Linked DNA regions of Homo sapiens: region 2 is linked to region 1. Evidence: fine-mapped expression QTL. Tissue or cell type: whole blood. Region 1 holds a variant in brackets; the other region holds the start of a gene. Each region is shown on its reference strand, or each on the opposite one. Region 1 overlaps BANP (BTG3 associated nuclear protein). Region 2 holds the start of FZD6 (frizzled class receptor 6).

The links. PIP is the estimated chance that this variant, and not a neighbour inherited with it, causes the effect.
Region 2: FZD6 starts here. The variant in region 1 is the best candidate, but not a certain one, in a credible set for the expression of FZD6 in whole blood (TOPMed, PIP 0.67).

Annotation. Positions count from the first base shown.
Region 1 is chr16:87,958,998-87,962,019 of GRCh38, reverse strand. All of the region lies in intron 1 of BANP (BTG3 associated nuclear protein), which reads right to left. Among named protein-coding and RNA genes, the nearest start is that of BANP, 9.1 kb to the right of the region's middle. The variant C/A (reference allele first, on the strand shown) is at 1,651.
Region 2 is chr8:103,297,465-103,300,225 of GRCh38, reverse strand. It overlaps FZD6 (frizzled class receptor 6), which reads right to left and starts at 1,328. Exons shown (of 7, transcript NM_003506.4): 1 at 1,231-1,328; 2 at 1-270. The coding sequence starts at 118. LOC105369147 (a long non-coding RNA gene) reads left to right here and starts at 1,408. Exons shown (of 2, transcript NR_148216.1): 1 at 1,408-1,877. RefSeq lists enhancers at 848-897, 751-1,251, 1,252-1,752 and silencers at 891-1,185, 1,048-1,297, 1,418-1,587, 1,598-1,647.

The DNA.
Region 1 (3,022 bases):
AATCCACCCACCTCATCCTCCCAAAGTGCTGGGATTACAGGAATGAGCCACTGCGCCCAGCCTAAGAAATGCATTTCTTATAGTTCAGGAGGCTGAGAAGTCCAAGGTCCAGGGGTCCCATCTGAGGAGTGCCTTCCTGCTGGTGGGGATATGAGAGACACCCAAACTGGCTTTTATAACAGACGCCCTGTCATGATCACTAACCCACCACGAGGAGAGCCCATTAGTCTATAAATGCACTGAACGCATTCCTGAGGGCTGAGCCCTCATGATCCAATCACCTCTTAATACTGTGACACTGGGGACCAGCTTTCAACATGAGTTTCAAAGGGGACAAACATTCATGGTACATACAAAACATGTTTTATGAAAAATAACTATAGCTTCCAAAGAACAACAAAACCTTAATGAGAAGAGGGATAATATTGTTTTACATTTTTACAAATTTCTAATGCCCGGCTTAATTGAAAACAACTAGAGTTTCCTATCTGCTTCCACCGGTGGTCTGCTCCGATATGTTGTTTTGGTCGATGCATATGACAAAAAGGCAGCCTCACCAGGGGAAGTGGCTCACGCCCGTAATCCCAGCACTTTGGGAGGCCCGGGGGGGTGCAGATTCTGTGAGTCCAGGAGTTCGAGACCAACCCGGGCAACACAGCAAAACCCTGTCTCTACAAAAAGTACGAAAAAATAAAATAAAATGCAGCCTTACAAGGAGATGCAGTTAGACAAGGGAAAAGTATCTTAATAGGCTCTTCAGATAATTATGGAGATTCCTCTTTGACACCACACCAACACGCAACAAGTGTGTTTTATTTTTCCTTAAAGGCTGTTTGCAATATGGAATGTGAACTGTATCCATGAGCTTCTGCACTTTATGGCTTTAAGATCCATTGGCTTGACTTGTACTCTAAATGGATCTTTTACCCAGGCGTGATCCCGCATCGACCATCTGGAAAATGTTGCTTCACCGAGTTAGGCAGCTCTTGCAAATGTTGTTCAGTCTATAATATCAAAAGCATACGGTTCATCAGCATTAGCACTGGCATCTGATTTATTGGGAGCTCTCGGGCTCACGGTGGCAAAGACAAACTTTCCAAAACTCCAACTTCACTTGACAGCTCAAACTTTATCACTGGCAACAAACACTGTTAGCTGACTTCTTTGAGGTGAGAGGCTAACTTCACTCATTTAGTAAGAGATGTCAGTAATCTGTAAATTATTTTTTTATAGTGTTCCATGAAAAGAGCAGCTAGTTCAACTACAACTCAAATAATCCCTCAACAACCACCCAACTTCAAAATACAATGAAAGTGCTTTCCGTGGACTTGCCATTTTATCAGAGCAGAATCACTGATTTTGTGAAACAGCTCATCTGCTGAGTTGGCCGGGGCACACCCAACACTGTGCCATGAACTGCTGTCATGCGTCTTGTTAGCAACGGGAGAAACTGGGTACCAGGCACAAGGGCACTCCCTATGCTATCTCTGCCACATATGTATACATCTCAAAATGTTCCAAAATAGAAGGTTTGCAAATAAGTATGTCTTTAGGATAAAAATAACAAAACCCTGCCAATACACGATGTGCCCCACCTGCTACCACCAAATCCTTGCCTGCCAACCTCTTTAAGCACGTTCCAAACCCTCA[C/A]CCAAGCCCATCCTCAAGTGTGGCTCTTCCCAAGAGCTGCTGAATCCCAAGCAAGCCATCTGGGTCCAGATCCACCATCAGACTGAAATTCATCTCCCAGGTGTCAGACAAGAGCCCCACAAGCAAGCTCCTGACTGCGTGGGCACCTGCCACGGCCAGTGTTTCGCATCTCCCCTCCCTGTGGCCATCCTCACGGTCCGCGGGGCCTCTGCTCTGCTCCAGAAGCCCCCAGAAGGTGGGCAGGAGGTTTGGCTGGTGTGCATGAGGGCCAGCCCCCAGTGAAGGTGCCCCTTGGGACTGTCTCCCAGGGTGGGGGTAGGAGGTGCCGGGGACACCTGTCACCCCCAGGTCTCCATCTCCTGCCTTGACCTCTCACCGGCACTTTCTTCAGTCCAGGGTTTAAACCCCGTCTAGGCCATGGTCACTCGGATCAGCCATCCCAGCACTTCCACAGCTGAACCCTCCTCACTTCCCTGTTATCTTTCTCCCCAAGAATACTACCAGGAGTCCCGGCCACCTCCCTGCGGCCCCACCCTCATCGCCCTGCTCTCGCCCTTCCGCATCCCGAGGCTCCTCCCTCTCTGACTCCCCCTCAGCCCACCCCCTCACCCGGGACCTGGGCTCTCACCGAGTACCCTGGCACCCATCGCTCCGAAGGGTGGCATCGCCCCTCTGCCACACACACTCCGATCTGGCCGTCTCTTTGTCCTCCAATGCTCCATGTGTCCCTCCCAAAACCACACGGGCTGCAGCAGGAAGACCATGGCCGCTAAGCCCTTCTGTGGCTGACGCCAGCGCTGTTCCTCCAGGGGGCCTCCTCCCCGGAGAGCCTGCTAGTACCAAGCCTGGTCAGCCGCCTCCCTCGCAAGCAGCCTCACACCTCAGCTCCTCTGTGCAGGGCCCAGGCCTCTCCCCATCCAGCCACTGCCTCTCTACACAACCTCGTCTTATTCCTTCCCAGGGCAAACACACTCTAGGTCAGGGGGTGGCACGTGAGGGCCCACAACCCAGCCCAGCTCTCCACCTGCTTCTATGCAGCCTGTGAGCCAGGAATGGGTTTTACATTTTAAAACAGAAAAATAACAAAAGAACAATATTTCATGATGAGAAAATTACATAAAACTCAAATGTCAGCGTCCACAAACAAGGTGCCTGCTTCTCAGCCCAACAGCAGAGTCGAGCGGCTTCACAGTGGCACGAGACATCCCACGCCCCACAAGGCCAGAAACACTTACACTCTGACCCTCACAGAAAAGCGTGCCATCCCGTCCTGGGCCTCTGGGATCCATCAGTGAACTCCACAAAGATCTCCACCCCTGTGGGCATGCACGGTGTCACCACCCAGTCCCCAGTGTACGTGCCAACATCATGC
Region 2 (2,761 bases), not on the chromosome of region 1:
TCATGTTGTAGGCCATTTTCATACATCTGGGAACAGTAATTGGTTCACAGGTGAAGAGACTGTGCCCTCTTAGGAGGGGTAGAAAAATACACGTCAACAAAAATGTAAACATTTCCATTTTCTTCAAATTCCTGATTTTACCACATGGCTTGGATGAATCACTCTTTGCATCCTCAGAAGATCCCCATCCAAAGATAAAATGTTCAAATTCCTCATTTCACTATTTTACTCATTTTCAGGCTTTCCTGAAAATGAGTCCTGGGTCAATTACTGTAAAAACAAAAGGAGGGTGTATCAGCAACATTTGTCATAAACTCAAATGTGGAGTCAAAGTGCAGAGTTAAGATTTTCACCCCAGGTAACAAACACTGGAAAAACAACGGAAAATTCTGTCCTAACGAGATACTCTTCCACCTGCCTTAGCATGGAATATATCATTTGCTAAGGAAGCTGCACCTCTAGGAAACCGATGCTAGGAGGTTGGTGCTGTATGGAAGACAGGGTTAAAAAGAGGGAATGGCAAGAGTAAGATGGAGGAAAAAAGGAAAGCTGGTGATTCGGAGTAAATTATAAAGGATTAATATAAGCATACAATCTAAGGGCCCCTGTTGGAAAGCTTATTAAGTACAAGAAAACTAAGGCCCTGGGAAATTCCTTAAGACCCAAAGAGTTCTTAAACTTGTAAAAGACTCTGAAGAGTCAGTTTTTGTGGCAGTCTTCTGGGTATGTAGTTTTCTCGATTTTCGTAAGGCCAACTAGAGGGAGACTTTTAGGATTCCTCCAGTGGAGGAGCAACATTGCAGTTTTCACTGGCTAGGAGGGTGTAGTGCTGCCGTCGAAAGGAAAGTGCGCAAATCTGTCCCGGGGGAAGGGCGAAGGCAGTCCCCTTGCGGGAGGAAGGCTGTAGGCCCCGGATTACGAATTACCCGCGCCCCAACACACACTGATGCCCGGTCCGCCAGCGCCCCACACCCGGGAACCTGCCCCAGGCCTAGAGCCAGACAGCAGCGTTCCTGGCCTGCGCGGCGCCGCGGGGCCCCGGCATCGCCTTTCAGAGCCGGTTCCCGCTTCCGAGGAAACTCAGGTGCGGGCCGTCCCGCCGTTGCCTCCCCAGCACCTGCGGCTCCCGGCGCGCCTCATCCCAGCCGCGGCCCCTCGCCCCTCGAGGCCCTCCCCGCTTCCCCCGGCACCCGCCCGGCCCCTGCCCAGTCCCAGCCGTGGAAGCCTCACCTCGGGGGGCGGTCGAAGGCCGCTGTCCCTTCCCGTCCCCGTCTAACCCACCGTTCCCCCCAGGGACCTGAGACGGCTCCGGGGTTGCGTCCGGGACTGGAGCTGCCTCGAGAGCCGCACGGGGAGCGAGAGCTGAGCGATCCCGCGAGACTGCGCCGCCAGGTCGGGCGGGCAGGTCCGGGCTCGCGGCGGCGGCGGCGGCGGCGGCGGCGGCGGCGGCGGGACTGGCCCTGCGCCCGGGCACCGCCTGCGCTGCGCCGCCCGGCCTCACTCCGCGGCCCGCCAGGACCCGGCCCCGGTGAACGGGCTCGGGGTGCCGAGGTCCGGCTGCGGGGCCGGGAAGCCACCTCCACCTTGCCGTCTGTTACGACCCCCGAGGCGCAAGGCTGAGCCCCATCTCGCTATCCGGGTCCGGAGGGGTTCACCTTAGAAGGATTTTTTGAAGCTCTTGGCGCTGGCTCTAAAAGAACCCACTTCCTTGCGGATTTCAGGAGTCAAGAATCCTTAAACGGAGCCAATTTGCTTTGTAAAGCCAATTGCCCAAGTGACTTGAGTTCGAAAGGAGATACTTCCTGGACAACTGCTATAAAAACAACAACAAATACTTTTATTAATTCGGGGAGCCTGGTCACCAACTGGATGCTCAGGTAGCAGTGGGATTCCAGCCCTGGCGGGTCCCACAGTTTTATTGATACAAACCCTAATAGGAAGTTGAACTGCTGTAGAAATCAACCTAGTTTGGGGTACCAACTCTGTCATAGATATTAGATAAATTACCCTAATCTTTAAGGGGCATAGTTTCCTCACAATATAGGAATGACAATAGTTGTAATGATGGTTAACGTTAATTGAGCACTGGCTGTAAGTCAAATAGTGCCAAGTTCGTTACAAGTGTTTACACCTAACCTGTAAGGCCCTCCTATGAAACAGGCAGAATAGTATGAGAAGCAAATGAACTTGTAGAAGTACTTTGAAAAATGCAAAGTAACTTGTAGATGGAGGCTATTCTTGTCAGATAAATCATCCTGTTGCAGAAAAGGAATGTCATATTTCCATACCTAGAAGGACAACCCTGAACAACCAGAGTAAGAGTTTTGGAATCTGTGGGGAAAGACGAATTTGGAGTGGGGAATTCCTCCCCAGTTTTATCAAAAGCTTACTGATGTTGGGAGACAGGTAGTGATGAAGAAATATTAACATCATTAAGAGCTGGATAGTTGATGTATTGCAGAATAAATTTCTATGTAGGAAGAATATTTTCCCCTAAATTTCTAATTTTCTACATTGGAAGACTATTTCTCTCCAGTTTCTACGAACTTAATGAGATCTTTTTGTGATCAGGCTCTAGTGACTACCAGGCAGTGAAGTATCACTAAAAGTATCATTTAAAAACGATACTTTTTAAAATATCGTTTGAAAACGATACTTTTAAAGTATCATTTGAAAACGATAGTTTTGAAATTCAAGTGAATACTTGTTCCATTATTTGGAAGGAAAAATTGTAGTAAGTTGATTTATACAGAAGTAAATA